Linked DNA regions of Homo sapiens. The protein of the gene in region 1 purifies or fractionates together with the protein of each later gene. This does not show direct contact. Each region holds a gene or a part of one and is shown in the gene's direction. Other genes may lie near its edges.

Evidence for each region.
Region 2: the proteins of SKP2 (region 1) and OFD1 purify together in Homo sapiens (affinity purification with mass spectrometry; 2 studies listed by BioGRID and IntAct, with this or other methods). This does not show direct contact.
Region 3: the proteins of SKP2 (region 1) and STK3 purify together in Homo sapiens (affinity purification with mass spectrometry; 2 studies listed by BioGRID and IntAct, with this or other methods). This does not show direct contact.
Region 4: the proteins of SKP2 (region 1) and KDM5C purify together in Homo sapiens (affinity purification with mass spectrometry; 2 studies listed by BioGRID and IntAct, with this or other methods). This does not show direct contact.
Region 5: the proteins of SKP2 (region 1) and ATG2B purify together in Homo sapiens (affinity purification with mass spectrometry; 2 studies listed by BioGRID and IntAct, with this or other methods). This does not show direct contact.
Region 6: the proteins of SKP2 (region 1) and MTFR1L purify together in Homo sapiens (affinity purification with mass spectrometry; 2 studies listed by BioGRID and IntAct, with this or other methods). This does not show direct contact.
Region 7: the proteins of SKP2 (region 1) and DDX11 purify together in Homo sapiens (affinity purification with mass spectrometry; 2 studies listed by BioGRID and IntAct, with this or other methods). This does not show direct contact.

Annotation. Positions count from the first base shown.
Region 1 is NC_000005.10:36,158,275-36,162,600, forward strand, and holds part of SKP2 (S-phase kinase-associated protein 2), read left to right. Parts: intron 1-4,326. UniProt on the Homo sapiens protein: Substrate recognition component of a SCF (SKP1-CUL1-F-box protein) E3 ubiquitin-protein ligase complex which mediates the ubiquitination and subsequent proteasomal degradation of target proteins involved in cell cycle progression, signal transduction and transcription.
Region 2 is NC_000023.11:13,758,656-13,762,981, forward strand, and holds part of OFD1 (centriole and centriolar satellite protein OFD1), read left to right. Parts: intron 1-1,459; coding exon 1,460-2,065; intron 2,066-2,429; coding exon 2,430-2,556; intron 2,557-3,688; coding exon 3,689-3,789; intron 3,790-4,326. UniProt on the Homo sapiens protein: Component of the centrioles controlling mother and daughter centrioles length. Recruits to the centriole IFT88 and centriole distal appendage-specific proteins including CEP164. Involved in the biogenesis of the cilium, a centriole-associated function.
Region 3 is NC_000008.11:98,706,786-98,711,111, reverse strand, and holds part of STK3 (serine/threonine-protein kinase 3), read left to right. Parts: intron 1-3,800; coding exon 3,801-3,965; intron 3,966-4,326. UniProt on the Homo sapiens protein: Stress-activated, pro-apoptotic kinase which, following caspase-cleavage, enters the nucleus and induces chromatin condensation followed by internucleosomal DNA fragmentation.
Region 4 is NC_000023.11:53,214,382-53,218,707, reverse strand, and holds part of KDM5C (lysine-specific demethylase 5C), read left to right. Parts: intron 1-309; coding exon 310-432; intron 433-741; coding exon 742-912; intron 913-1,430; coding exon 1,431-1,565; intron 1,566-2,510; coding exon 2,511-2,634; intron 2,635-2,731; coding exon 2,732-2,913; intron 2,914-3,860; coding exon 3,861-4,019; intron 4,020-4,326. UniProt on the Homo sapiens protein: Histone demethylase that specifically demethylates 'Lys-4' of histone H3, thereby playing a central role in histone code. Does not demethylate histone H3 'Lys-9', H3 'Lys-27', H3 'Lys-36', H3 'Lys-79' or H4 'Lys-20'.
Region 5 is NC_000014.9:96,356,597-96,360,922, reverse strand, and holds part of ATG2B (autophagy-related protein 2 homolog B), read left to right. Parts: intron 1-4,326. UniProt on the Homo sapiens protein: Lipid transfer protein required for both autophagosome formation and regulation of lipid droplet morphology and dispersion.
Region 6 is NC_000001.11:25,825,852-25,830,177, forward strand, and holds part of MTFR1L (mitochondrial fission regulator 1-like), read left to right. Parts: intron 1-450; coding exon 451-560; intron 561-763; coding exon 764-975; intron 976-3,657; coding exon 3,658-3,979; intron 3,980-4,326. UniProt on the Homo sapiens protein: Mitochondrial protein required for adaptation of miochondrial dynamics to metabolic changes. Regulates mitochondrial morphology at steady state and mediates AMPK-dependent stress-induced mitochondrial fragmentation via the control of OPA1 levels.
Region 7 is NC_000012.12:31,079,534-31,083,859, forward strand, and holds part of DDX11 (ATP-dependent DNA helicase DDX11), read left to right. Parts: intron 1-4,279; coding exon 4,280-4,326. UniProt on the Homo sapiens protein: DNA-dependent ATPase and ATP-dependent DNA helicase that participates in various functions in genomic stability, including DNA replication, DNA repair and heterochromatin organization as well as in ribosomal RNA synthesis.

The DNA of each region.
Region 1 (4,326 bases):
TTCATCATGAATTCAGGAAACAGATGGCTAATGTTTTGAGAATTAAATATGGCAAGGAAAATTAGATTAAGCATATCACAGCCTGGATGCCTATTGCTAGAGCAGCTATTAAAGACAAACTTCTGCCCCATCTGCTGGGACAGCAGCCCATATCAGGCTGTGGTACCCCCACCCGGGGCCCCTAGGATTAGTGTCATTCTGTGGTCAGCTGAGTAAGAGCACTGGGTACTTGGCTGCTAGCTGAGTATGTGTGTTTTCTAGGACCTTGCTCCTTCCATTTGGTGGTGAACCCATTGATAGCATCTTTGTTTTATTTTCTCTCTCCTCCTCCACTCACTCCCTAGCCCTGATTGATTTCTGTTTCCATAGCAAGTCCGGGTTTAATTCTCACCTTTTCAAAATTTGTACTTACAACAGAGGAGAGCATAGAATATTAGAACCCACTAGGATGGAAAGGGCATGATTTGAAATCAGACCTGAGTTTAAATTCCCCCTCTGCCACTTACTGATTGTGTGACCTTGTCTCTTTTATCATAGTTGCATGTTTTCTTGAAGCCCCAGCCCCCATCTCCCAGAGACTACAGCTATACTGATAGAGGACATTCCCTTCTGCTCTGGGTTTTTGTCTTCAGCCTCATCCCCTCCATATGCCAACAGTGCTGTGCACATAGTCGTTAATTGGTTAATAAGGGTTAGCCATTCACACTAATAAAGAATTAGCACATTCACCATTTGAATGAAGAGGGCTAATAAATACATTTGGCAAATATTTATAGAGTCCTGTTATGTGCCAGGCATTGTTAGGTAATGGATGTGCAAATCTGGGCATGGGGCCTGTGGTGGTATCCTGGGTGGGAATGCTTCTTTGAGCAGGTGCCATTTAAGCTGAAATCTGGAGGAGTTGGGAAGGCAAAGATGGAAGTTGCAACACAAAGTCCTCCAGACTTTGGAGTCTCACATGCAGTCTTCATTGGTTAGGTCTACTGACCTCTGCATTCATCACTATGCCAGATTTTCCTCTAGCACTTTAATTACCTGGCTGCTACTGCTCTTTTAATTGGTCCTGATTTCTTATGTCTTCCTAATAGAAAGCACCAAGTTTGTTAATTTATTTCTCCTGCCCTGTACTTCATAGCAAGCTTTTCTAATTTCCTTTCCCCAGCCATAATTTCTGTTGGTGCCCTATCTATAGCCCCTTGAAGCCCCCCATTCCCTTACATGCCAAAGCTTTTGCCTACGTGTAGATGAGATTCCATGCCTGAGGGCTTTCTCTGGGCAGGAATACTGGGGAGTCCCCAAATAGTGACCAACAGCAATTGATGGATTAATACCCCAGCACTCGTGCCCTTGGTTGAGACAGCTCTGGGGTAGTTTCTAGATGGTTTACTGGAGTCCCCAGAAGATTTGAACCCCAATTGCCCATAGGGATAACCTGCCTATTAGCCTACTCCAGGTTGGCTTTCTTCCCTTCCACCTCTGTCTTCTCCACTCTTTCTAGTGCTTCCTGGCATCACTTCCCAAATAAACTACTTGAAGTCAGAGCTTCAGAATCTGCTTCTGGGGGACCCAAACTTAAATAAAGGGCAGATACGGGGTTTTGGTAAGTCATACCATGCAGACCTTGTCCAGTGTCTGCCCATGGGTGAAAATTCAGAGCAGCACTGAAAAGGTCATTGCATGAAGAAAATACCCAGACTTAACTGGGAAAGGAGAGGAATATAGAAAAGAAAGTTTTACTCCCTGCTGCATTATTTAATCTTTTCTTGTACCTCATTTACTCTTCACTGAACAATTTTGCAAGATAAATCTGTCAATTTCCTTTCCTGCAGGTAAAGAAACTGAGGCCAGAAAGATTAAGTAACTTGCCCAAGTTCACAGACTTGGGGCAACACAGCCAGGATTCTGATAGAAACTGTGCTGCTTTCTCAGTCCAGTAGTCCTCAAATGTGTTGAGGAGGCCCAGCGTATGGTGTCAGTATGATTTTTACAGATTATAGTAAAATCTCAACATATTAGATTCAAAATAGCTAAGTATGTTATTGAAGTATAGTTAAGCTTACTCTTCCATAGAGGCCACTTCCTCCAGGAAGGCTTCCTTAACCTCTGCACCATTCCCATGTGCTGCACAGCACCCTGAATCCTGCTGTAGCCCATCAGGATAGTTTATTGAAATTTCCTGTTTAATTGTTTGTCTGTATCTCTCAAACTCAGAGTAGAATAAGGGTCAGGATTGTACCTTACTTATTGTTGTGGCCCAAAACCTAGAACAGACCTCAGTGTATATAGTACATGGTTAATAAATACGTGAGTGGATGACTATACTTATAGCTAAATATAGTTATGCCCAATCAATTACTAGATTCTGATCTAGATATGTAAGAGGCAGCAGAGGTCTGAGAGAGTTGGATTAATGGGAGAAAAACTTGAGAAAAGCCTGTCATTCAACTTTGTTTTCAATTTGGGGAGCAGGGCAAGAGCCTGGTTTGAGAACCTTTGTCCCCTGCCCATGTTGACTTTGGAGGAACTTTGTGGCAGTGATGGAACAGCTGCCACGTCGAGGAGCCTCCTCACAACCTCCAGCTGCCTCCCCAGATCAGCAGGGGTGATCTGCCTTCAGCTTTCTACCCCTAGCTTTCAGGGCCTCAGTCAGTCCTTTAATTTTGTCCCCTGAAGGGCGTGAGGCTAGGGGAACAGGCATTCATTGAACAACTGTGTATCTCCTACTCATTCTTCAAGAGAGGCCACTTCCTCCAGAAAGGCTTCCCTAACCCCTGCGCCATTCCCATAAGCTGCACAGCACCCCGAATCCTACTGTAGCCCATCAGGATAGGTTATTGAAGTTTCCTGTTTGTCTATATCTCTCAAACTCTGAGCAGAATAAGGGTCAGGATTGTGCCTTATTTATCATTGTGTCCTTAAAACCTAGAATAGACCTCAGTGTATAGTACATATTTTATAAATATGGGAGTGGATGAATGTATCAATTTTATGCTAGTTCCTGAAAATACAAAAATTGTTAAAAAAAAAAAAAAAAGCGTTTTTGTTTCTCAAGAGCTCCTGGGGGTCTAGAGAGATGAGTAAGTAAATAATGAAATTATGGTACATAAGTGGCCTGTCCTTGTTGATGTCACGGGAGGCCTTCTGTGGGAACTGGGGCTTCCATTTGATTTTAAATGAATAGTAGTTGGAGGCAAGCACAGGATGTGCAAAAGCATTGAGATACGGCACAGAATGACTCATTCTAAGAATTACAGGTAGCTCCAAATGGCTGGAACACATTTCTAGATAACAAACCTAGGAAAACTAGTTGAGACCTGGCTGAAAGCGTTTAACTTTGTACTAAGCATTGTGGACTTTAGCCTAAATACCTGGGGTGTACCACTGAAGGATTCTAACTGGGGGAAAGACATGCTGGTTTAGAAAGACTGCCCAGGGCAGCAGGTGTTTGTCACACTCCTCGGTGTTTTTCTCCCTTGTGTCCTCAAACCCACTTATACAGGGCCTGGTACAAAGGACATGCTCAGTAAAGACTGGCACCTTTAAATGGGAGTAGGAGGAGAGAATATCACCAGAATTGGTGTAGAAGATCCATCAGAGGTGGAAAGCCTAGGAAGGCAATCATTGAACTCATCTGACTGTTTTTTAGGATTCCTTCATTGTGCATTTATTTCCTTCTTGGCAATTGTTACATTATCCTGAGCTTGTGGGATTATTCTATGTATTCATATGTAAGAGTTTCATACTTGTTGAATAGTTATTTAGAGATTGCTTCTATGAAAGAAAACTGCGCTTCCTGCATCCACCTTTCTGTTCTAAACACAGCAGCCAGAGTGATCCTTTTTGAACTTACGTGAGGGCCTGTCATTCCTGTGCTCAGAATCTTCTAGTGGTGCCTCATAGAATTCAGCGTCAAAGCCAAAGGCTTTATCATGACCTAGGAAGCCTGCATGACCTGGCTGCTCTCTGATTTTTCTACCCACCTACCTCTGCGCTCTACACTGGCCTCCTTGCTATGCCTCAAACACACATGCTGTTCCTTGGATCTAGAACACGTACACCAGATACTCACAGGGCTCACTCCCTCACTTTGTTCAAGCCTTTGCTTAGTGATCGTCATCTCAGTATGGCCTTCCCTGACCACCATGTTCAAACTTAATAACATCTGCTCTGAACTCTCTGTTCTCTCCCTTGCCCTGTTTAATTTTTCTGCACAGCACAGATCAATTTTACTATATCATATAATGTACTTATTTTTTGATGTGTGATTATCTGTTCCGCATTACTGGAATGAAGTCCCACGAAGGTAGTGTTTTGGGTCTGATTTAC
Region 2 (4,326 bases), on another chromosome or scaffold:
TCATGGCTTGGGAGAGTCTCATGCCCCAATAGGAAAGGCGTGGTGGTAACATAGAAGTCCCCATATTCATTATAGGATTTCCTTTTTTATTTGTTACCCCAATGTTAACACCAATTCAGTAGTTTTACGGATTCCTTGATAGATATATAAATATACAGGACAAGCAGGGTGGTTTAGCAAAAAGAATATTGCCTTCAGAATCAGAACTGTTCTTCTTTTGGACCCGTTTTGAAGTTGTTTGACCTTGGGCATGTTACTTTAACTTCCTTGGGCCTCAGTCTCCTCATTTGTAATGGGGATAATAATACCTACTGAGCCATGATGAAAAAGATGAAATGGGTTTCAGTCCAGTGCCTGGGACATAAAAGACACTCAGGAAATGGTTATTGGTATCATTTTATTATTGTGTCTTCACTGTGGATGCATCTCTGCCCCTTCCTACTTCGTAAGAAGGATATTAAAGTTCAGATACTTTATTCTTCAGTTGCTTTCAAGTTCAAAGAAAGTACGTATGTGTTACCAGTTCAACTGGGTCTGAGCCTTCCTTGTTCCCACCTGCATTGTTTCCTCATCAGCTCCTTGCTCTCTTCTACCAGCACTTGTTTTATTTTTATCTCTACTCGTTTCTGCTTTTTTCTGTTCCTCATTTTCTTTCAGTTCTGTTTGTGAAACTTCTCACAGCTGAAATCATAGCAGTCTCCTATCAATAAAAAATAGTTGAATGAGGATAGAACTCTTTCGCATGCATGTGTTGCCGAGGGCAAGCTTCTTTCTTGTAGCATCACGGGGAGGCATTGCAGGAGAGAGGGGCAGGTGCACTGGCTTTGCATTAGGAAAGCCCAGTAGCTCTTAGACTTGCTAACCGTGTGACCCAGCCTCAGTAAGCTTTAGTCCCCCCATCTGTAAAATGGGAGCAGTGAGAGTTTCTTGACCACAGTGTTGTTGTGAATGCAGGTCCTCACTTCCTTATATGAAACTCGGGCCATATGCTGTGGATTTCGCAATAGCCCTGGGAGTTCTGAACAGCATCCTATAGTAAAGCACATTAATTATTTTGCAGTCAACTGTATGAATATTCATGCTGGGATAAATAAAGATTATAAATGGGTTTACATCAGTTCAGGTCAAACTTTTCAACCAAATGAGTTCAAGTCTGGTTGGGCTTTGCCACCAAATAAATTATGAATAAATTTTCAGTTCTCAGAGCCTTGTGGCTTTCAAAATTGTGCATAATGGATTCTGAAATTATATCATGTTACAAAAGACATACAAAGCTGTAGCTGGTACAATAAGCTCTCAGTAAATGTTAGTGGTTATCGTTACCATGGCTTCAGAAACTGTATAGTGCAAGTTTGTCCTTATTACTCTCTTCCATTTTTCAAAAAAATAATATTCTCAAGTATATTTTCTTCTCTGCCTTGTCCACTTACTTCTGAAATTGGCTTTTTGTACCCTGCAGCCCTAGAGAATGAAGTGTACTGCAATCCAAAGCAGTCTGTGATCGATCGTTCTGTCAATGGATTAATAAATGGCAATGTGGTGCCTTGCAATGGTGAGATAAGTGGGGATTTCTTGAACAATCCTTTTAAACAGGAAAACGTTCTAGCACGTATGGTTGCATCAAGGATCACAAATTATCCAACTGCATGGGTGGAGGGTAGTTCCCCTGATTCTGACCTTGAGTTTGTAGCCAATACTAAGGCAAGGGTCAAAGAGCTTCAGCAAGAGGCCGAACGCTTGGAAAAGGCTTTCAGAAGTTACCATCGGAGAGTCATTAAAAACTCTGCCAAAAGCCCACTAGCAGCAAAGAGCCCACCATCTCTGCACTTGCTGGAAGCCTTCAAAAACATTACTTCCAGTTCCCCGGAAAGACATATTTTTGGAGAGGACAGAGTTGTCTCTGAGCAGCCTCAAGTGGGCACACTTGAAGAAAGGAATGACGTCGTGGAAGCACTGACAGGCAGTGCAGCCTCGAGGCTCCGCGGGGGCACTTCCTCCAGACGCCTCTCTTCCACACCCCTTCCAAAAGCAAAAAGAAGCCTCGAAAGTGAAATGTATCTGGAAGGTAAGCCACCCGCACAAAGGGTTGCGGGGTGCTCTGGAGTTGGGTAGCCACCCTGCCCACGACACAGGGTTGCCGTGAGGGTCAGCGGGCCAGAGTGGCAAGGTCTAGTGTTTGGCACACAGAGCTGTTTAGAGAGTGATAGTTGCCTTGCCTTTGCTGCCTGTTGGTTTCCTGCATTTTATTATTGCCACTGCAATTTAATTTAGGTGCTTGAATCATTAGTTTTCTGGATCTTATGCATCATAATTGGCTATTTGTGAGGATAACAGTTTATTTTCAAACTAGTAGAGCTCTTTAGAAACCACGTTGGTATCTTCTCCGTGCAATTGGTAATATTCTTGCCTTGGTTCTTTCTGCACCTTAGGTCTGGGCAGATCACACATTGCTTCCCCCAGTCCTTGTCCTGACAGAATGCCCCTACCATCACCCACTGAGTCTAGGCACAGCCTCTCCATCCCTCCTGTCTCCAGCCCTCCGGAGCAGAAAGTGGGGTAAGTATAACGTTCTGATTGATTAGCTTCAGCTGAATAATGTTACTTGCTCTGTCAGCCTTCACTTGTTTTACTGGGATTTTTTTTTTTTGAGATAATTATTATAGATCATGTGGCAGTATAGAATTTGCAATCAGATTGCAAAATGATATGTCATCTTTGAGAATCATCTAAATTACCTGGAGGGAAAAAGATTGCTTTTAGCAAATAAGTGGATAATGCTTATTTGCTAAACTTGATATATGGACCATGCAATCTGGTATTAATAAGCATCTTCCTAGTTCTGTGAATAGATTTGGTTTATTAAGATAAAAAACAAATGTACAAAATCTGAAAGCAAACAAATGGAGGTTATTTATAAAGTTGGAACAATTTTACACATCATTAAAAAGTCATTTTTAAAATATTTTGGCATTGAAATATAAACAGATAAGGTTCTGACCTGCATATCATTGAAATAAATTCAAACGTGGTAGCAGGCTCTGGTGTATGATTGTTGAAACAGGAAGGAGTGGATGTTTTTAGAAACTAGTCCACTGGGTCAGCCAGGCTATGATTTGAGTCATGAGCAGACTCCTACCCATACCTGGGCCCCACAGCAGAGGGAACTGACTCCTTAGCTCCAGGCTCGATCTCGGGCATCTGCATGTTAATGTAGTTCTCTGCCACATGGGCCTGTCGTAGTCCTAAAGCTTTTTTTTTTTTTTTTTTTTTTTGTGATAAGCCAAAAGGAAGGATAAGACACACACATATGCTGAGTTAGGGCGCTTTGCTCACTCAAGGTTGTGGTGTTGCATCTTCATCTGGTTCATGCTGATAGTGTGCAGAATTTTTTTTCAGAAATGTTTTATGGTTATTTCCTAGGAATAGCATTCAGAGTACAACATTATTCTTTATTAACAACTGTAGTACCTACTTCACAGCATGAAATAGTTACAAGGAGTAACTGATTAAACAGGTATTAATTGCTGAGAACAATGCCTAGTGGTGGTGGTGAGGTGGAGCTATTTACAAGACAAAGAGAAAGGGAATTTTGTAGAGCCTTTTCTTGAGTCACAAAAGGCTTTTTGTCACCTTGTACTCTTTGGTTTTCCATTATTGAAACTTCACGAGTTTTATCCTTCCAATCTAGTCTTTATCGAAGACAAACTGAACTTCAAGACAAAAGTGAATTTTCAGATGTGGACAAGCTAGCTTTTAAGGATAATGAGGAGTTTGAATCATCTTTTGAATGTAAGTTCAAATATAAATACCAGTTTTTATATGTTGAAAATCTAGAAAGCTTAGTTTTGGTGAAACGTATCCATTGGTTTAAAAAGAAAAGCAGTTACAAATTGGGTCATTATTATTTTGTGATACAACCACAAGTACAGATGTATCACCTCATTTTTCTACCATGATGATTTTCATGTGTGTGTTTACTTTTTAAAAATTTCAGTATGACTAATAATTTCAGAGTTTGAGCTAAGCTTATAAATGAATTATTAACTTATCAGATTTTAAATAAGTGATTTTTATTTATTTTTTCCTTTGATGGAATACAAGAATGTTTATTTTTATTTTTTTGAGATGGAGTCTCTCTCTGTTGCCCAGGCTGGAGTACAGTGGTCCGATCTTGGCTCACTGCAATCTCCCTCCTCCTCCCAGGTCCAAGTGATTCATCTGCCTCAGCCTCCCGAGTAGCTGGGACCAACCACAGGTGCATGCCATCACACCCAGCTAGTTTTTTTGTATTTTTAGTAGAGATGGGGTTTCACCATATTGGCCAGG
Region 3 (4,326 bases), on another chromosome or scaffold:
GTCCTTTCTGTTTGTTAGTTTTCCTTCTGTCAGGACCCTCAGCTGCAGGTCTGTTGGAGTTTGCTGGAGGTCCACTCCAGACTCTGTTTGCCTGGGTATGAGCAATGGAGGCTGCAGAACAGTGGATATTGGTGAACAGCAAATGTTGCTGCCTGATCGTTCCTCTGGAAGTTTTGTCTCAGAGGAGTACCGGGCTGTGTGAGGTGTCAGTCTGCCCCTACTTGGGGCTGCCTCCCAGTTAGGCTACTTGGGGGTCAGTGACCCACTTGAGGAGGCAGTCTGTCTGTTCTCAGATCTCCAGCTGTGTGCTGGGAGAACCACTACTCTCTTCAAAGATGTCAGACAGGGACATTTAAGTCTGCAGACGTTTCTGCTGCCTTGTTTGGCTATGCCCTGCCCCCAGAGGTGGAGTCTACAGAGGTAGGCCAGCCTCCTTGAGCTGTGGTGGGCTGCACCCAGTTTGAGCTTCCTGGCTGCTTTGTTTACCTACTCAAGCCTGGGCAATGGCAGGCGCCCCTCCCCCAGCCTCGCTGCCGCATTGCAGTTTGATCTCACACTGTTGTGCTAGCAGTGAGCGAGGCTCCATGGGTGTAGGACCCTCCAAGCCAGGCGCGGGATATAATCTCCTGGTGTGCCGTTTGCTAAGACCATTGGAAAAGCACAGTATTAGGGTGGGAGTGACCTGATTTTCCAGGTGCCATCTGTCACCCCTTTCTTTGACTAGGAAAGGGAATTCCCTGACCCCTTGCACTTCCCAGGTGAGGTGATGCCCCGCCCTGCTTCAGCTCATGCTCAGTGCACTGTACCCACTGTCTTGCACCCACTTTCCGATACTCCCCAGTGAGATGAATCTGGTACCTCAGTTGGAAATGCAGAAATCATGTGTCTTCTGCAATGCTCACGCTGGGAGCTTTAGACTGGAGCTGTTCCTATTCAGCCGTCTTGTCTCCATCCCTATTTATTAGTTCTAATAGGTTTTTTTTGTGGAATCTTTAGAATTTTCTACATATATGATCATATCATCTGTGAACAGAGATAATTTTACTTCTTTTTTTCCAGTTTGGATGCCTTTATTTGTTTTTCTTCCCTAATTGCTCTGTCTAGAACCTCCAGTACTATATGTAACAGAAGTATTAGGCTGGTGCAAAAGTAATTTCGGTTTTTGCCATTACTTTAAAAAAAAAATGGCAAAAACTGCGATTACTTTTGCACCAACCTAATAGCATCCTTTCATTGTTCCTGATCTTTGTGGAAAAGCTTTCAGTCTTACTGCTTTGAGTATGACATTTACTTTGGGTTTTTTGTATATGGCTTTTACTATGGTGAGATAGTTTCCTTCTATTCATATTAGTTGTGTGTTTTATGAAAAGAAGTTAAATTTAATCAAATGCTTTTTCTGTTTTCATTTGAAATGATCATGTGGTTTCTTCTCCATTCTGTTAAGGTGGTGTATTGCATTGTTCGATTTTGTATGTTGAATCAACCTTGCATTCCAGGAATACATTCCAGTTGGTCATAGTGTATAACCTGTTACAATCCTGTTGAAGTGAGTGTGCTATATTTTGTTGAGGATTTTTGTATCAATGTTCATAAGGGATATTGGTCTTAGTTGTTTTGTGGTAACTTTGTCTGGCTTTGATATCAGAATAATGCCTCTTAAAATGAGTGTGGAAGTGTTCTCTTTTCTTCAGTGTTTTAGAAAATTTGAGAAGTTGAATCAAGATATTTTAATCTTTTTTTTTCCTTTTTGTGGAGTGTATGTTCCCAGATAGCCATTCACATGGTTGGCCCCATTATATCATTTAGACTTCAGTAAAATGTCTTTTGGGCCTTCTTGAATGTCAATCTAAAGTAGCTTCTCAGTCGTTCTCTATCAGTAGCTCTCTATTGTTGTCCTCATAGCAATTTTCACAGACATTTTCCTGTGTTATCCTATTTTCTATCAAATTATCCCGTTGCTTATAGATAGAATATAAGCTTGAGAGCAGTCCCTAATCATTTAGAATTTTTATGGTTGATTCTGTTACATAGGCATGATTGATTAAGTCTTTGGACATTTGTGCTTAACTAAATCTCTACCCCCTCTCTCCTTGCAGCCCTCCCGTAAGTCAGGGGTCAGGCAGAAATTTCCAAACATCTAATCACTTGGTTGGTTTTTTCGGCAACCAGCTCCCATCCTGAAGCTATCTAGGCTCCCACCAAGAGTCACCTGATCAGTATAAATTCTGGTATGGTTGAAAGGAGCTTATTATGAATGACAAAAGACAGCCCCTCTCACTCTTGTGAGAGGGTGAGAAAACAAAGATAAAATATCTTGATTCAACTTCTCACTCACTCAGTCAATTCACAGGGTCTTAGGAGATTTTGTGCCAAGAACCTACAAAGACCAAATATTTCCTGTGATTTCATAATATCACACTACCTTACAAGGTTGTTTTAAGAATAAATGAGAGAATGCATGCATAACTCTTAGCACATTGCCTGGTACAGATAGCAGTGGCTCTACTGCTACAACTGTTAAGAAGATTTTCTTTCTTTCCCATCCGTCTCTTCCTCGGCCTTCTCTACTCTCCCCTTTTTCCCTCCTCTGATAGTCTTTGCTTGTGTTTCCATTTTCCTAATCTTTCTCTGACGTTTTTTCTTCTGAGTTCTCAATATTAGGTCAGAAGTCCAGAACTTGGAAGGGTTAGGAGTGGCATTGGTGTAGGAGCTTCTCGCAGAAGATTCATTGCAAGCCTCCCTCCCTCATTTACTTTCCTTTATGTAAAGCTGTTGGTTTCATTTTCATCAAGAATCTGAAATATCTCAGGGGAAGTATCTGAATTTACTTTTTCAGAACAGATATTAGCTGTGATAGTGCCCTCCCAGTATTAGAAGATGTGGGAAATCACTATTATGATTCCTTATATCAGGCTGATTCTTGAGATATGTTGTTTGCTTTAGGAATGATACTGATAATTTTTTTTTTTTTTTGAGATGGAGTCTCGCTGTGTCGCCCAGGCTGGCATGCAGTGATGTGATCTCAGCTCACTGCAACCTCTGCCTCCCAGGTTCAAGTGACTCTCCTGCCTCAGCCTCCTGAGTAGCTGGGATTACAAGTGCACGCCATCACGCCTGGCTAATTTTTGTATTTTTAGTAGAGACGAGGTTTCACCATGTGGGCCAGGCTGGTTTTGAACTCCTGACCTCAAGTGATCTGCTCGCCTCAGCCTCCCAAAGTGCTGGGATTACAGGTGTGAGCCACCACGCCCTGCTGATACTGATAATCTTAAAGAGAGAAATTTGATCATCCTTTCATTAGTAAAATGTGTAATAAGAAAGCTTATTGTGGGAAGAAGAGGTTCTCGATTATTTACCCCTTTAGCATTTTCCTGGAGGTTTAGCGGTCATTAGAAAGAAGTACTTGTGGCTAGGCATGGTGGCTCACACCTATAATCCCAACACTTTGGGAAGCTGAGGAAGGAGAATTGTTTGAAGCAAAGAGTTCAAGACCAGCCCGGGCAACATAGCGAGATCCCCATCTCTACAAAAATAAAAATAAGTTAGCCTATTGGGTTGGCATGTGCCTGTAGTTCTAGCTACTCGGGAAGCTGAGGTGGGAGCATGCCTTGAGCCCAGGAATTTTAGGCTGCAGTGAGCTATCATCACACCACTGCACTGTAGCCTGGGCAACAGAGTGGGGTCTCTTAAAAAAAAACACACACACACACACGGAAAGACATACTTGTTACTAGTGCTCTTTCGTAAGATTTTATCTAACGTGGCATTTTAATTATGGTTTTAAAAATATTTCTTTCCAGTTAATAGAAGATGAAATTGCAACCATTCTTAAATCTACATTGAAAGGACTAGAATATTTGCACTTTATGAGAAAAATACACAGAGATATAAAAGCTGGAAATATTCTCCTCAATACAGAAGGACATGCAAAATTGGCAGATTTTGGAGTGGCTGGTCAGTTAACAGTAAGTTAACTTTAATGGTTTTCTAAACACTTGGCTAATTTGTTCAGATTTGATTATAACTAAACTTCAATTACTTTTTGAGGGGGAATGGAAAGAAATGTGTAGTTTTTTAATTTTTGTGGAGAAGGAACCATAATTGAGCCAAATTTGAGTATTATTTAATTTATAATTTAGGGTGATTGAATGTGAAAATATATCTTATAATCAAAATGCTTAAATGTTCTAAAAGGGAAGCTACGTAGCTCATTTCTGTAGCTTTTATCATTGTAGCACTATCTTTAATGACTGTGTTTAATGATGGTAGTGTGGATAAGTTACCTGTGGACTCTTGGTTATTTTCAGAATTCGGAATTCCTAAGTA
Region 4 (4,326 bases), on another chromosome or scaffold:
GCTACTCAGGAGGCTGAGGCAGGAGGATCACTTGAGCCCAGGAGGTCAAGTCTACAGTCAGCCGTGATTGCACCACTCCATTCCAGCTTGGGCGACAGAGCAAGACCGTCTCAAAAAAACAAAAACGAAAGAAATGAGAGTGAGGTGGGGCTAAGCACTGCCTAGAGTCTGGGATCCGGTTCATTGGGAGAAACCCTGGGTAGTGAAAGTGTGGAGTGCTGTATTCCTCTGTTCTCCCCTAAGACTGGACCCAAAGATAGTGGTCAGTGGGAGGGGGTGGCCAGCCTCTTTGAGCCATTTCTTCTTCAGGCCCAGACGAGAGTGAAACTGAACTACTTGGACCAGATTGCCAAATTCTGGGAAATCCAGGGCTCCTCCTTAAAGATTCCCAATGTAGAACGGCGGATCTTGGACCTCTACAGTCTCAGCAAAGTAAGAACAGGTTTTTGTCAAGCACCCCTCCCACCAAACCCCAATATCCTTGATACTCTGGGGGCCCCCTTAGTTTGGATATTAGATCTTTAGGCTGCAATGGAAGGGGCACAGCTTGGTAGCACACAAGCTGTCATCAGAACATCTTGGAATCTTTTGCTGCAATTTGAGGTTGGGATAAGGGGATAGCCCCCAGTGAAGTGAGGGACTAGAGTTGCCCTCATTGCCCTTTTGCCCTTTCTACAGGCCTACTCCCTCACATATAAATACACGTGGCACATCCATGTCTTTTCCTACTTGTTTTTTCAGATTGTGGTGGAGGAAGGTGGTTATGAAGCTATCTGCAAGGACCGTCGGTGGGCTCGGGTAGCCCAGCGCCTCAACTATCCACCAGGCAAAAATATTGGCTCCTTGCTACGCTCCCACTACGAACGCATTGTTTATCCCTATGAAATGTACCAGTCTGGAGCCAACCTTGTGGTAAGGATGTCACAGTGGGGCAGGGTGCGGCTTTACCCTTCAGCACAGATTTCCACACTTGCTCTTAATGAAACTGGTTTAGTGGACTGGAGACCTGGGAGTTGGACTCTGCTCTTTCCTAGTGATGCTTATTCTCTTTCTACACTGCTCAGGGTCAGAGGTCCTGGAGTTATCTGTACGGCTAGCTTATTTGTTATGTGACAAAGTTTTAACTGATAGAGAAATCAGAGAAGGGAGAGCTTGGGCTAGAAGGTGTGGGAAGAGATGGCGTCTGATTTAGTTGGGGAGATGGTTGGTGGAGGAAGTGACTGGAAGGGAGGAGTGATACAAGCAAAGGTACTGAGAATTCCCAAAATGTGTGCTGGTGTCAGTGCTAAAGACCAGTGGAACAGGGGCTGTTGGTGTGGGTCAGGTGAGTGGACCACAGCTTTGGATGCCATTGGGTGAGGGTAGAGGGAAGTTATTGCTTTTGCGGGCTGGAGTCCATGTCCTGACCCTTACCCCTTACCTGTCCCCAGCAGTGTAACACACGTCCATTTGATAATGAGGAGAAGGACAAGGAATACAAACCCCACAGCATCCCCCTACGACAGTCTGTGCAGCCTTCCAAGTTCAACAGCTATGGCCGGCGGGCCAAGAGACTGCAGCCTGATGTGAGTACTCCCCTTCTTCGAACTTAGAGCTTTGAGGTGGAGGGAGTCCTCTCCTTCCTTCTGGCTAAGGCTGTGTTCCCTGTTCCATTATCCCTTCTTTTGTTCTCTGAGTTCTTCTGAGCATTAGTGTGCCTCTCTCTGGCTTCACTCTTGCTTTTTTCTCCCCTCTCAGCTGAGCTGCTGAGCTGGGTCTTGATCTGTTTGTGCAACCTCTTTTGTATGTCTGCTCTTCTTGCCTGTTTTGTTCCTTTCCGGACTTACTCTGCTCATAGAAGTAGAACTCTTCTTTCTCTTTATACCTGTATCTTTTGTTTTGTTTTGTTTTGAGGCATAGGGTCTTGCTATGTCGCCCAGACTGGAGTACAGTGGCTATTCACAGGCTTGATCATAATGCACTATAATCTTGAACTCCTAGGCTTGAGTGATCCTCTCACCTCAGCCTCTGGAGTAGCTAGGACTACAGGTGTGTACCACTGTTCCCAGCTCCTTGTAGCTATGTCTTCAGGCAGAAGCTTATGTGCCAGGCATTCTTGGCACTGGGAATACAATAGAGAACAAGATGGACACTGTCCCTGGGCTCATCGAAGCATGTAATTTAGCAGATCCTATTAGACTGCCATTTGTTGGTAATGCCAAACACTGTTAGCTTTTTCATATGTATTGTCCCTAACCCCCCTCATAACTATAAGGGAGGAGGTAATATTCTCATTTTACAGTTGGGAAAACTGAGATATCCTGTCTTTTATTCCTTTCTGAGAGAGGGCCGAGGGGGCAGCTCACCTACCCTCAGTCTCCAAAAAGCAACTCTGAGTTCTTGGCTTAGCCCATCTGTGCCTCAGCCCTCAGCATGAGATCAGGTGATATGTAGTCCGAGTTACTGTTCTTTTAGGATGGGACAGTCTGCCCCAGATAGCAGTCTTGATTCATTTCCTTCTTTCCTTCCAGCCGGAACCCACAGAGGAAGACATTGAGAAGAATCCAGAGCTGAAAAAGCTACAGATCTATGGGGCAGGCCCCAAGATGATGGGCCTGGGCCTCATGGCCAAAGACAAGACTCTGCGGAAGAAAGGTAAGGCCTAACAGGCTGGGGTGGCCTCACCTGGGGAGAAAAGTCAGGGCCCTAAGTGTCCTAGACCTGTGTTTACAGCCATTTTTCTCTCTCCCAGATAAGGAGGGGCCTGAGTGTCCCCCCACAGTAGTGGTGAAGGAGGAGTTAGGTGGGGATGTGAAGGTGGAGTCAACATCGCCTAAGACCTTCCTGGAGAGCAAGGAGGAGCTGAGTCACAGCCCAGAACCCTGCACCAAGATGACCATGAGGCTACGGAGGAACCACAGCAATGCCCAGTTTGTAAGGACCCAGCCCTGACTTCTTAATGCTCTGCTTCTTGTCCCTTCAATAAGCATTCCCCTGCATGGCACTGGACCAGTTCGCATTAACCACAAAAGCGGGCCTCCATGGGCCCTGCCCTCAGGTAGCTCACTTAATTGGGGAAACAAAGCCAACTCATATGGAACAAAGAGCAAGAAAGGGTGATCAAGTGCTGTCAACATGAAGTGCTGGAAGGGTCCAGAGAAGGAGTCTCACTCTCCATTGCTTCAGGATAAAGGCTAAGCTCCTCATTACCATGCATGATCCAGTCCCTGCTGACCTCTAGCCTCATCCCCCAGCACTGCCCACCTCACTCCTCTGCTATAGCCACACTGAACTCCTTGTAGGTATGTTCATTTTTCCCCGTAAGATGCAGTATGCTCTTTCATCCCTATCCTTTGCACATGTTGTTTCTTCAGCCTGGAAGAGATTCCCCCTGTGCTCTGCCCTGTTGCCATGTTTTGTTTTGCCTTCAGGTTTCAGCCAGTTTCAGGTGTTACCTTTTCAATGAAGTCCTTTCTCAAGGCCATCCCTCCTTATCTCCAGCTGCTTTGAGTGCTTCCTTCTCTAGGCTCCCACAGTGCCCTTTATGGACCGCTATTGGCAATTTTTAATTTTTATGAACACATGTCTCTAGAGTACTGTATATACTTGGAAGGATACCATGTCTTGTCTTTGTGCTAGAGTCCAGCGTAGTTCTGAATACGGGTTTAGTAAGTGTTTATTGGATGAATAAAAATGGGAGGATTCAAGACTGGATGATAAAAGACTGCTCTTGCAGCTCTACCTGCTTATTTGGGGAGATGGTACATACGTGCAGTTGAGCTCCAGACCTAGCATGACTAGCCTATACAGGGCTGTAAATCATTCAGCCAGCAAACACAGTGGATTTCCAATGGAGAACTTTTGCTCTTCTCCCCTGGCAGATTGAGTCATATGTCTGCCGGATGTGTTCTCGAGGGGATGAGGATGACAAGCTCCTGCTGTGTGATGGCTGTGATGACAACTACCACATCTTCTGCCTGCTGCCTCCTCTGCCTGAGATCCCCAAGGGTGTCTGGCGGTGCCCAAAGTGTGTCATGGCGGTAAGGCCTCCCCACTCCACATCTGCCTCATAGGGCTTCCTTGCCTTCCTTCATCTGGCCTTATTGAGGGCAGCCTCTTAGCTCAGCCATAGTCTTAGGTTTTGGGTCTCTGTGGTGGGATTAGGCTGGGCAGAGCTTTGGGAGAAAGGAGCAGGAGATTCAGCCTTTGCTTCTGTCCTCTAAGAGCTCCCAGACCACCTGGAGAGGTAAGCATCATAATTAGACTATATGTGGTGACATATAAACAGAGGCTAAATTGTGTGTTAGAAACTCTGAGATATAGAAGTTCAGAGGAGAGGAAAATAGC
Region 5 (4,326 bases), on another chromosome or scaffold:
CATTCTCTTGCTTTGTTGCCAAAGCTGGTCTTGAACTCCTGGTTTCAAGTGGTCCTCCCACTTCTGCCTCCCAAGTGCTCAGATTACAGGCATGAGCCATAGGACCCAGCCAGATACTTGATTTTAATGACTTACATGACTGAAAAAAAGGTACCTTCGGAGATTCACAGATCCTAATGGAAAAACTGATGCTAATTGAAGAATTGCTGTACTCCTACTGTTTCAATTCTAAATGATCAATTATGCAAAGAATTTTGTTGAACTCAGCAATGACATTCCTTTCATTCCTGATCTCAATTAGTTTTTCTATTATGGCTAATTGACATTGCATATATACACACAATTAGGTTTAAAATTCAGTTTTTCAAGCTCTTTGTTCAGAAGACTTAGATTGGTTGGAATAGTCTTTTCATGTTTTTAAACATTTTGTAAACTATATAGATAATGACTTAAAAAATAAGCAATGTTTTTAATAGACATTGTTTTCAGCAACAAAATCATGGAACAATGGAAACATTTCCAAATACAGTTTTTCAAATGTTCTCCTCATAGTACAAGTAGTCTTTGAAAAGTGGTTGCTTTCTTACTCATTATTAAAGTGCTATCTTTATTTTGAAAAGACAGATTAAGTATGTTTTGTTTTTTGGAAAATATCTGCTAGGTAGCATGTACTACTGATAGTCATTGTCATAAATACATAAATAGTCAGTGGAGAATTCTTCTCTGTGTAAAAGGAAAATGCTTATCTTTAAATCCAACCCTTAAACACTTGGCCATAGGAGAAACCAGGAAACCAGAAGGTAATTGCCATTCACTTTCTCTTTACAAAGATTCTACTGTTTAAAGGTCTGGTTTTATTCTATAGAATGTATGTGGAAATGTTTCAGTGTGCAGAAGTGGAAGGAACATCCAACTGAGGGCACCACTCTTAATCCTTCTCTGTTGTGGAACTACTAGTTTTCTCTTTGTACCAGTTTGATATGTGGCTTGAAGGAAGGTGCCAGTGCCCATTTGTATATTAAATATAAGTACAACTTTTCAATCTAAATTTGGAAAATTTAATATAGAATGTCTCATTTTCCTCTCACATCCTTATGAATCATCTGATAATACTTTAGGATATATGCATCCAGTTTTGGAGATTACTACCTTAAACGTGGCATGAAGTGGAGGGAGAAATAGAGGCAAGGGGTTTGGGATTGTTCCATCATTGGAATAGACTGTCTAAAAATTTCATAAACTCCTTGTCCCTAGAAGTGGTTGAAATGGCAAAATGTTGAAAGGAGGAAATTCTATTTGGGGTGGGAAGTTGGATTTAATGACTCATTCCTTTTTAACTCTATGACTGTGCCTTTATTTTTGATTTTTAAATGGAATTTCTTTCATTAATCGATTCAGTACATTTATTGAGCTCTTAGCATGTGCCACTGTGAGGGGCTGGGGGATATAGCAGTGAACTAAACAAAGACCCTTTTCTTACAGGAGCTCAAGAAGATACACATTAACAATTTATTACACTGAGGCCTTTTATTTTATTTTTTTTTTGAGACAGGGTCTCACTCTGTCACCCAGACTGGAGTGCAGTGGCGTGATCTAGGCTTACTGCAGCCTCAACCTGCTAGGCTCAAGCGATCCTCCTACCTCTCCTCCCCTCCCTGCAGTAGCTGGGACTACAGGTGCATGCCACCACACCTGGCTACTTTTTGTATTTTTTGTAGAGACGGGATTTCGCCATGTTGCCCAGGCTGGTCTTGAACTCCTGGACTCAAGCAGTCTGCCCATGTCGGCCTCCCAAAGTGCTGGGATTACAGACGTGAGCCACCACGCCTGGCCACTGAGGCCTTTTAACTTCAGTTTAAGAATGTTTCGATTGCTGCTTATATTCTCTTGGTGTTTAATAAAATTATCTTCAGTTCAAGAAACATTGATTACTGATTATTTGTCAAAGGTCACCTGGAGACTAGAGTGTTACCTTCACTTTTTCTGTTTATATGCGTGAAACTCATTGATGATAATTGAAAGCAAAATACCCTTAAACAGAAGAATAAAAAGCTCTAAAGGACTCTATGGTGGGGCATTTATTTGCTGAGTAGTTCAGGTGTCTCCACTTTTAGTTTAAGAGTTATTTTCTCGTTAGCATAGTGGTGACTAAAAAAAAAAAAATACTTGATAGGACTGGTGAGGAAACACTTCATAGGACTGGTGTGGAAAATGTTGCTTGAGCCAAGTAGGTTGAGAATTTTTACTACTCATATACTATAGTAGCCTTGGATTTTCCCAGAATGACTGAATTTCAAGGTACCTTATGCTACAAGATATATGGGATTTTGCTCAAGTGGTTATAAGACTGGGCATAAATATAACCTATTTAAACATCTTATACTTAGGGAAATTATTTTGTAGCTTAGTGGTGCAATGTAAATTCTGGAACTGTTGACTCTCCAAAACTGTTAACATTTATCAGTTTTTTTCTTTTTTTCCTTTTCTTTCTTTAGAGACAGTCTCTGTTACCTAGGCTGGAGTACAGTGGTGTGATCAGCTCACTGCAGCCTCAAACTCATGGGTTCAAGCGATCCTCCAATCCAGCCTCCTGAGTAGGTGGGGACTACTGATGTACACCACCACACCCAGTTAATTTCTTTTAATTTTTGTAGAGACCGGATTTCACTATGTTGCCCAGGCTGATCTTGACCTCCTGGGCTCAAGTGATCCTCCCACCTCAGCCCCCCCCAGTTTCTGGAATTACAGGCATGAGCCACCGTACCAGGCCCCTTTAATATTACTCTTCACTGCTGTAATAAACCTTTTTGTATTTAGAGGTTTAACTTTATTTCAACTTCTCTGCCACAAAATTGGGACGAAAACTTGGTGTTTACTGAGAAGAGAGTTCCATCAAGTCCCGTTTCTCTCATAGTTGTCTAAGGTTGACAGTTTGCAGAAGCTAAGTCATTGCCTCCATATGTTTTAAACACTGTTAGGTTTTTAATAGTTCATTTTTACTATACAATTAATATATGCTCATTACAAAAAATTCAAACAGTAAAGAAATATATGAGGTATGAAGTAATAGAGCTTAATCCCATCTCTTCCAGAGATAACAATATGGTACAAAAGTTTCAAACTTTTAGTTGTGGAAATACTTAATACATGAAGCAAGCAGTTCTACTTACCTTTTGAAGTCTTTTATGATGGGCCATTTTTTTAATGGAATGTGTCAAACATTCTTAAAAAAAAAAAACTATGAAAAAATCTGAAAAACACAAGTAGAGGGAAGAACCTTGATGACCGTAACTTGTGGTACCTAGTTGATGGTGAAATAGGAAATTCTAGAGAAGGAGCAGGTTTTCTCCACTGTCTGGAGTTGGGAGTGGGAGGAGGAGATTGAGATTGGACAGAGAATAAGTTTTACTATATTGATTTTTGAGGGGGCTTTAGAATGTGGGGGCTTTAGATCCAGGTAGAGAAGCTCAGGAGGCACTGGGAATATACGTATAGGAAGATTGCAGTTGTAAAGATATGGGAGTTATCAGAGTATCAATAGTGAATAACAGTGGCAGGAGATGGAACTGCACAAAGTGCGTGGGTAGTAAGTAGATCAGCTTGAGAAACAAAAAAGGCCGAAGATGAAACTTAGATGAACTCCAACATTTTAAATTGTAAAGGATCAGAAAAAAGATTGAGAGAGTGAAGTGTTACAGAAGTCAAGGGAAGTTAGAATTTCAAAAAAGGTGAGTGGTCCTAGGAACTAGGTAGAGATGAGAATTCAATAAAGATGAGGACTAAATATTGTTTATTGCATTTGTCATTTTAATGGTGGTTACAAGCAGTTTCAGAGGAGCTGAGGGTTAGAAGGTCGCTTGTAGTTTGCAGTTTGAGCAGATAACTACCTTGACAGAGAAAATGGGGTTGATGGCTAGGGGGAACATGGAGCAAGGTTAGGGGTTTTAGTTTACTTTTGAAAATAATAATGATCATTTATTAAATACCTTCCATCTCTATATACTGTACTGTGTGGGTGCTTTTACATACATTATTTTACTCTAAATTGGGTACTAACTTTCTGTTTACTGTGAGGTTAAATAACTTACTCAAGCTTAGTATTAAACAGTGCAGCAAGGTTTGAAACCTGTCTTTCTGACTTTATATTTTTTTTTTGTACACCACACTGCCCCAGATTCAAGAAACTTGAGCTTCTCAGACATAACAGCACTGGGTTCACCTGGGAATTTGCTAACATTCAGGCTTCTGGCCCCTTCCATACAGATTTTGGCTCTAGAAATTCAAGAATCTGCATTTTTAATAAACATCCTAGGAGATTCTGATACA
Region 6 (4,326 bases), on another chromosome or scaffold:
GTTTTTGAATGTGGCTCTGTTGTCCACGCTAGAGTACAGTGGTGCAATCTCAGCTCACTGCAACCTCTGCCTCCCAGGTTCAAGCCATCTTCCCACCTCAGTCTCCTGAATAGCTGGGACTACAGGCGTATACCACCATACCCAGATAATTTTTGTATTTTTTGGTAGAGGCAGGGTTTTGCCATGTTGCCCAGGCTGATCTCAAACTCTTGGTCTCAAGCATTCTGCCTGCCTCGGCCTCCCAAATGCTGGGATTACAGGTGTGAGCCACCATGCCTGACTGTCATCTGGCCTCTGTTCAATGTTTTCGACCAGGAACCTTCTTCTGCCCCCTCTAGGAAGCCTTCCTGACACCCAGTGCCGGATTAGGTACCCCTCCTGTGTATTCTGCAGTTTCTGATTGGCTCATCATGGCATCTGTAAATGTTGATGACTTTTGCTTCTCCATAGACCCTGCCCAACATCTCTGACCTGTGTTTGAGAGATGTGCCCCCAGTCCCTACCCTGGCTGACATCGCCTGGATTGCTGCGGATGAAGAGGAGACATATGCCCGGGTCAGGTAGTTGAGGCAGTAGCTGGTCTGCTAAGGAATGGAGAACTTCCCAGAAGAGGTGGCAGGCAGCAAGGAGAGAGGAATGAGAACTGTGGGCTCAGAGAGGAGCAGAACCTTACTATACTACTCTCACAGAAGTGGGGGAAGGAACCTTAGGAGCACAGTGGCCTGCTGTCTCTAACTGATCTACTTGGTTTTCCCTGGTCCAGGAGTGATACGCGCCCCCTGAGGCACACCTGGAAACCCAGCCCTCTGATTGTCATGCAGCGCAATGCCTCTGTTCCCAACCTGCGTGGGTCCGAGGAGAGGCTTCTGGCCCTGAAGAAGCCAGCTCTGCCAGCCCTAAGCCGCACTACTGAGCTGCAGGACGAGCTGAGCCACTTGCGCAGCCAGATTGCAAAGATAGTGGCAGCTGATGCAGGTAGGAGCCCCTGTGCCAGGGCCAGAACGTAACAGGCTGTTCCTTTCCCCTGGCTCTTGGGCAGGATAGGGGTAAAGAAAGTGGTAATCCTTGGTTTGCAGGTACTTAGGTTCCGGGCCCTGGGGTTGTCCTGAAGCCTGGCTAGCCAGTAGTGCCTCTTAGATGGTTTCTACCAGCCATTTTGGGCTGAATGGTTTGGTTAAGAACAAAATATTAACCTGTGACCCCAGGCAGAGTCCCTCCCTTAGCCCCCAAACTGATACCCTCTTCTAAGTGTCTTTAAGATCACATCTTACATAAGCCCACAGTAGCTTTTTTTTTTTCTCCTCTGAGTGAGTCTTGCTCTGTCGCCCAGGCTGGAAGTGCAGTGGCACGATCTTAGTTCACTGCACTCTGCCTCCCAGGTGCAAGCGATTCTCCTGCCTCAGCCTCCTGAGTAGCTGGGACTACAGGGGTGTGCCACCAGGCCTGGCTAATTTTTATATTTTTAGTAGAGACAGAGTTCCACCATGTTGGCCAGGCTGGTCTTGTATTCCTGACCTCAGATGACCCACCCACCTCAGCCTCTCAAAGTGCTGGGATTATAGGTGTGAGCCACCGAGCCCAGCCAGTTTTCCTTTTTTTGGAGACAGGGTCCTGGTTCTTGCTCTGTTGCCCAGGCTGGAGTGCAGTGGCGCAATCTTGGCTCACTGCAACCTCTGCCTCCCAGGCTCAAGCGATTCTCGTGCCTCAGCCTCCTGAGTAGCTGGAATTACGGGTGTGCACCACCACACCTGGCTAATTTTTTTATTTTTAGTAGAGACGGGGTTTTGCCACATTAATCAGGCTGGTCTCAAACTCCTGGCCTCAAGCAATCCACCCAGCTCGGCCTTCCAAAGTGCTAAGATTATAGGCATGAGCCACTGTGCCCGCGGTTGAAACAAGAGTCTCATTCTGTCACCCAGGTTGGAGTGCGGTGGCACGATCTTGGCTCACTGCAACCTCCACCTCCTGGGTTCAAGCAGTTCTCGTGCCTCTGCCTCCCGAGTAGCTGGGATTATAGGCGCATGCCACCATGCCCAGCTAATTTTTTGTATTTTTAGTAGAGATAGGGTTTCGCCATTGCCCAGGCTGGTCTCAAACTCCTGAGCTCAAGCAATCCACTTGCCTCAGCCTCCCAAAATGCTAGGATTACAACCATGAGCCACCGCGCCCTGCTTTCCTTTTCAATACAAGAAGTAAACATTCCCCCCACCACCACTGAGACTTACCCTTTTTAAGCACCTATCTTCCCTTGCCTTGTTGTTTCTACCAGGAATCACAAGTGGCTTTACCACTTCAGTTCTTATACTGCTAGTGACATTGTCCCCATGCCCCACCCTTCAAAGTGGGGAGTTTCATGACATTATGTTATGTTTTCTTATCTCAAATTGGTGGACTTTTTTGGTGGAAGGAGAATTTCATAAAGTTGGAGATCTTGGCCTTAAAATACAGTGGTCGGGCACTGTGGCTTACGCCTGTAATCCCAACACTTTGGAAGGCTGAGGTGGGTGGATCACCTGAGGTCAGGAGTTCGAGACCAGCCTGGCCAACATGGTGAAACCCTGTCTCTATAAAAAATACAAAAATTAGCTGGGCATCGCAGCATGTGCCTTGAACCTGGAAGGTGGAGGTGGAGGCAGAGGTGGAGGTTGCAATGAGCTGAAGTTGCACCACTGCACTCCAGCATGGGCGACAGAGTGAGACTCCGTCTCAAAAAAAGAAAAAAAAAAAACAGTGGTCTATTATGCAAACAAGCCCTGTAACCCACCCCTCCAGCTTTCTGTCTACAGTTAAGGCAGAACCACTGGAAATGGATGGGAAGCCTGCCTTAACCAGAGGCATGGACAGCCAACAGGTGGATCGCTCCCAAGATGCTCAGGGCTTATCTTCATATTCCTCCCATCCTCATTTTTTCACTCTGCATTGACTCAGAGTCATAGCTCTGAAATTTATCATTTGGTAGGACACATGAAAATCATGGTGTTCTTTGAAATCTTCATGTATTTAATTTCTTCACATGGAAGTTTTATGAAGAATTGTACTGAAACTTTGTTATTTCTTGGCTACTTTTTTGTCATCCAAGAGACAAGCAGAAGTAACATCTTTTTTAGAAACATAGTTTTTAGTGTATTTAGTGTTTTTAAAGTATTTTTAGAAATGTAAAAACTGAGGAAATTCTCTCCACTGAAATTTGGGGAGGTTGGGAGGTCTGTTACCATTCTGGTTTTGCTCAGAACATGTCTTCTAGTTCACAGATAGCAAGATTTCAAAGGAGCATAGTCAAAAGCACTAGTCTAGTTAGAGAAAAGGACAAATTCAGGCCTTAGCTCTTATCTCTGCTGCTTTGGCCTATGACAGGGCTGTCACTCCACAGCCTATTGTGGAATGGGAGCTTTTAAATGCCAAGGCCATTATGGGGCTGGGTTTTCCTGCCTTCCTGGAACACTGGAAAAGCCCAGTGCTTCTACAGCTTTCTGAGCCCCCGAGTGAGAAGCATAGTGGAATGACCCTCCACTGGCTACAGATACCATCCTGGCTCTCCCAGATTGTCATGGTGTCAGCCCAGGAAATGAATGTTCAGTAGGCAGGGCTGTGGGGAGAAGATATTGCTACTGTGTTCTAGCCCCAATGTCCACCCATGCCTATTGTTTTCTCTTTCAGCTTCGGCTTCATTAACGCCAGATTTCTTATCTCCAGGAAGTTCAAATGTCTCTTCTCCCTTACCTTGTTTTGGATCCTCATTCCACTCTACAACTTCCTTTGTCATTAGTGACATCACCGAGGAGACAGAGGTGGAGGTCCCTGAGCTTCCATCAGTCCCCCTGCTTTGTTCTGCCAGCCCTGAATGTTGCAAACCAGAACACAAAGCTGCCTGCAGTTCGTCTGAAGAGGATGACTGCGTCTCTTTGTCCAAGGCCAGCAGCTTTGCAGACATGATGGGTATCCTGAAGGACTTTCACCGAATGAAACAGAGTCAAGATCTGTAAGTATCTGATGAGGAGCTCTGGTATCTATTTACTCAGAGTTGCCCATGGCCAATTATGTAATGCAACATACTTACATAGTAAGTTCTTAGTAGTACCATATGTTATGTCATTCATAAAGCTTGCTGACTACCTGCTTGCCAGTGCCTGGGGCCCCAGTTTGAGGAAAGAGCAACACTACATTTATTGGGTTTGGTCACCCCAACCAAATATGAGGCTAGTAGGGATTTTACAAGAAGGCTCATCTAATCCAACTTCTGTCCTCAGGTGGCTTTACCACTTCAGTCCTCATACTGCTAGTGACAGTGTCTTCATGGCCCACCCTTCAAAGTGAGGGGTTGCATGA
Region 7 (4,326 bases), on another chromosome or scaffold:
TGGTGTCTCTTTCTCTTTTATGAGGACAAGGGCTGCTCCCTTATGGCTGCTCCGTTATGACCTCCTTTACCCTTGAAGGCCAGATCTGTAGTAGAGTCACATGGCGGGGTTAGGATTTCAACATATGTTTGTTTGTTAAGATGGGCAGTCTCACTATGTGGCCCAGGCTGGTCTCGAACTCAAGCGATCCTCCCCTCTCAGCCTCCCAAGTACCTGGTGGCTGGCAAGATCCAAGATTACTGGTGCACACCACCATACACAGCTTCTTTTGTTTTGTTTTTGTTCTTTAAAAACATTTTTTTAACATGCATTTTGGTGGGGATACAATTCAGTCCACAGCAGTGACCAATTCCATTTTTACCTTGGAGCCCTCCTGGAATCCTCCATCCTTTCCCTGTCATTTGAATTAGTTGCTCCTCAGACTGACTTGACAGATTTCAGCATGAGTGTTAATGGGGACAGACGGCCGCACCCACACCACATCAGGGTATACGTCCGTTTGGAGGCTTTCCTCAAACGTCTGGCAGCCCTGGACTGCCTGTGTATGCTGAAGAACAGGGCACAGAAAGGCTGAGTCTGCAGGGCACTGGCTGTGGCTGCCAGGCTGGGCTCCTTTGTTGGGGGCCTCCAGTTGCCAGCACATCTGTGGGATTTTCCCTAGAGTCTTCAGTCTCTCCAGAGCAGGTGCCTCTGAGCCCTGGCCCAGCAGGTACAGACGCTGAAGCCCAATAGCCGGTCTTCCGGGAGGTGGTCTGGGGAAGGGGATCCAGGTGGAGAGTCCCCCTCAGTGCCTGCTTTCAGCCTGGCCCTCCTCCCCCTCCCTCTTGCCTCCTCAATCTGCCGGTTGCCTCCAGGGCTCTCCTAGCTCAGCTTCCACTTAGAGCCCACTTCCTGTCTTCTGCAAGGAGCAGGAGCAGGGATTGCAACCTGAGAATCTAATTGTTCTTAAAAAGAATTTCAACCCGTCCCTTTGTTTTCAGTGGCCTGCTGTGTTCCTACCACTTCCTGAGTCTTTCTGAGAATGAGTGGGGGAGATCTCTGGGGACACTTGGGCTTGAGTGTCTCTGCCGAAATCACTTCCATGTCTCTGCCTTCTTTCCCTCTCTCCTAAAACATATTACTCCTTCCACTTTCTTTTTGTGGGTGTAAGCCTCCATATTACTTTGGTTAATTTTAGTGTGCTTTGGAACACAGATGAGTGCATGTTCATTCTGCCTTGTTTAATTTTAGAGACAGGGTGTTGCTCTGTTGCCCAGGGCCGAGTGCAGTGTTAAGATCATGGTTTACTGCAGCCTCAACCTTCTGGCAACAAGTGATCTTCCCACGTCAGCCTCCTGAGCAGCTGGGACTACAGGTGTGCACCATCACACCTAGCTAATTTTTTAATTTGTAGAAATGAGATCTCACTATGCTGCTCAGGCCGGTGGTCTTAAACCCCTAGGCTCAAGCAATCCTCCCTCCTTGGCCTCCCATAGTGCTGAGATTACAGGCATGAGCCACTGTACCTGACCCCTTTCACCTTGTTTAGCCTGACAACCCATCTTCTCCCTCTCAGGTCTTTCCATCTCAGTCTTCTGCACTCCAGGCTTCTGCGTCTTCTTCCTCTGCTCAGCCTTTAATTGTCGATGTTTCTGGTTCTATAGCTTCATCTTCTTGTGTGCAGTCTCTGTGAATGTACCCTGTGGCTTTATTACCTTTGACATTCTTCTGTCTTCTAAATCATCTCCTGAATAGAGTGTTTTCTCCTGTCCTGGGTGTCCCGCAGCCCATAGAAGCAGCCATGCTGTGGGACACCCTGAGTGGGGTTTGTGTTACCTGTTGTGCCTACCATGCCCTTCCCCGCCGTGGATGCACAGGTGCCCCACCTTAGCTGCCCCAGATGCTGTTTATCCTTGATAGTCACCTTTTAAGCCTTATACAGGTCTATCAAGTTGAGTCACCATTACCACTTGGTGTGTGCTGTGCCTTGTGTAATACTGCAGTTCCGGGAGTCATCCAACCTGGAATGCATGCTTTGCGGGGATCTATGATGCCCTCGAATTGTATGTTACATGTGAACCTGTGAGCATTTTCTAGGGGCTCTGCACCTTTGTGTCCTCAGCTCTGAGCCCCATGCTTGCTGCAACCAGCAGGTGTTCAGAGTGAATGAATTTGCTTATCTTGGCATAAATCATGTAACTGTTGATGATACCCCAGGAAGGTGAGCCTTTGGTTATAAATCCTTTTAACATTTTCCAGTCTAAAAGTTTTGTGGTCTTATTACACGATGTAGAAAACAGTGGGCCTCAGTTATTCTTTTGCTGTTGTGCCGGAGTATACCACGGTTGTTTTTGAAAGATAACTTTGACCATACCCTTAGGAACTTCCTCAGCTCACTTTCAAATGGAGGGCACTGGCTTTCTAACCATTGTGTCTCCCAGCCCAGTGACAGCTGAAGCTGACTGCTTCCGATATCACAGACAGCACAGAAGAGCCGCCCTCCAGGTGCTGCTGGGAAATGCTGCCTGGAACTCTTTGCCATTTACTTTCTATCAAAAGCTGAGGGAAATGGTACATATGGGGCTTTCCTAAAAATATGGGATCCATCCATTTGTCAACAATGTCATTCTATCCTATCCCAGGGCCTTTCAAGATTTTGATGAAAACTAATAGATCCCATATTCCAGAATAATGCTATTAATAATTTTATTATTATTACTTAATGATAGCAAAAAGTTAGCTAACTCCAACCGCTCACTTGTTATTTGCCAGGTAATCCTCTAATCCAGAGGATTTGGCCTTTTGTGTGTGTTAATGTCCTGCTTGCACCAGCTCTATGAGGAAGGTGCCGCTGTTGTCATTTCCATTTCTGCACTCGTGGAAACAAGCGTAGTGAGGCCAGCCTGAGCCACAGAGCTGCAGGTGGGGGAGACAGCTGGAACCCTGGCACCTGGCTGTGGAGTTTGAGACTCTGACTCCTGCGCCGCGCTGCTGCCCCAACCGTAGTCATACGAGGTGTTTCACCCCGCCCTGGATACTCTGAGATCCCCTCTGGGTTCAGCAGGCTCAGAGAGCTGACTGCCTGGAGCAGAAGGCATGGGGTCCTCCAGAGACTCCCCTGAGCTGAGTTCCCCTGTGGACACCAGGGCCGCCTCCTTGTGGCGCTCCCTGAAGGGTCCTCTCTGGAAGAACTGTATTGGTTCCCTGGGGCTGCTAGAGGAAAGCTTCACAAACTGGGGCTTAAACAACAGAAACTGACATCCCACAGCGCTGGAGGCTGGAGTCCGAGATCAAGGTGTCAGCATGCTTGGTCCCTTCTGAGGGTCGTGAGGGAAAGATCTCTTCAGGCCCCTTTCCTTGGCTTATAGGTGGCGTGTTCTCCTTGGGTATCATCACATCGCCTGCCTTCTGTGCATGTCTGCATCCACGTGTCCCCTTTCCAATAAGGATATTAGCCCTTTAGGCTGGGTCCCGTCCTAGTAGTCTCATCTTAACTAATTACATTTGCGACAGTCCTATTTCCAGATCAGGCCACATTCTGAGATGCTGGGGGTTAGGATTTCAACACAGGAATTTGGAGGAATACAACTCAATCAGGCTTATGGAAAATTCTGGTCTTAAGTCAAGGGTAGTGTTCTCCAGTCTGTATATGGAGGCGCACACCTATGGTCCCAGCCACTTGGGAGGCTGAGGCCAGAGAACTGTGTGAGCCCAGGAGTTCCATACCAGCCTGGGCAACATAGCAAGACCTCCTCTCAAAAACAGACAGAGTGGTGTCTTCCAGAGTGATTAGTTTGCTTAAAAAAAAAAAAACAAAACAAAACACAAACCGTAAGCACTGGCGCTCATGACTGATCATCCTGTATCCACGCACGAGCTGCACGAAGGCCGCGCGGTCACTCTGGCTCCCTGTTGGCGAGTACCTGGGATTTCTTGCTCAGCATTTTGGGGCCTTAATTCTTTTAGGGGACTTTTTGTCTAATGTCTCCCCTTCTTCTAATTATGTGCGATATTTACATAGAATCTGATAAACTGCTTCAAATTTGTTTTCAGAACAGTGAGCTGGATAATTAAAGAAGCTTTTTCCTGCTTCTTGGGCCCAGTTTCCATTTCTTTCTTTTTTCTGTTTTTCCTGGCTATTCTAGTGCTAATTTCCTTCCTTTCCTTTCCTAGGCTGGTCTTAGAGCATCCTCTCCTATGTACAGCCAGACCTTCTTTCAAGCTTTTATTAAAATGGGGAAAGGTCATTTGGGAGGCTTTGTTGTTTTCCTGTTTCTAAAGATCATTTTTCTTCCTGCAGGGGAAGTCCTTAAGTCTTATTTGTGGGGCCCTCTCTTGGCTCCGTGA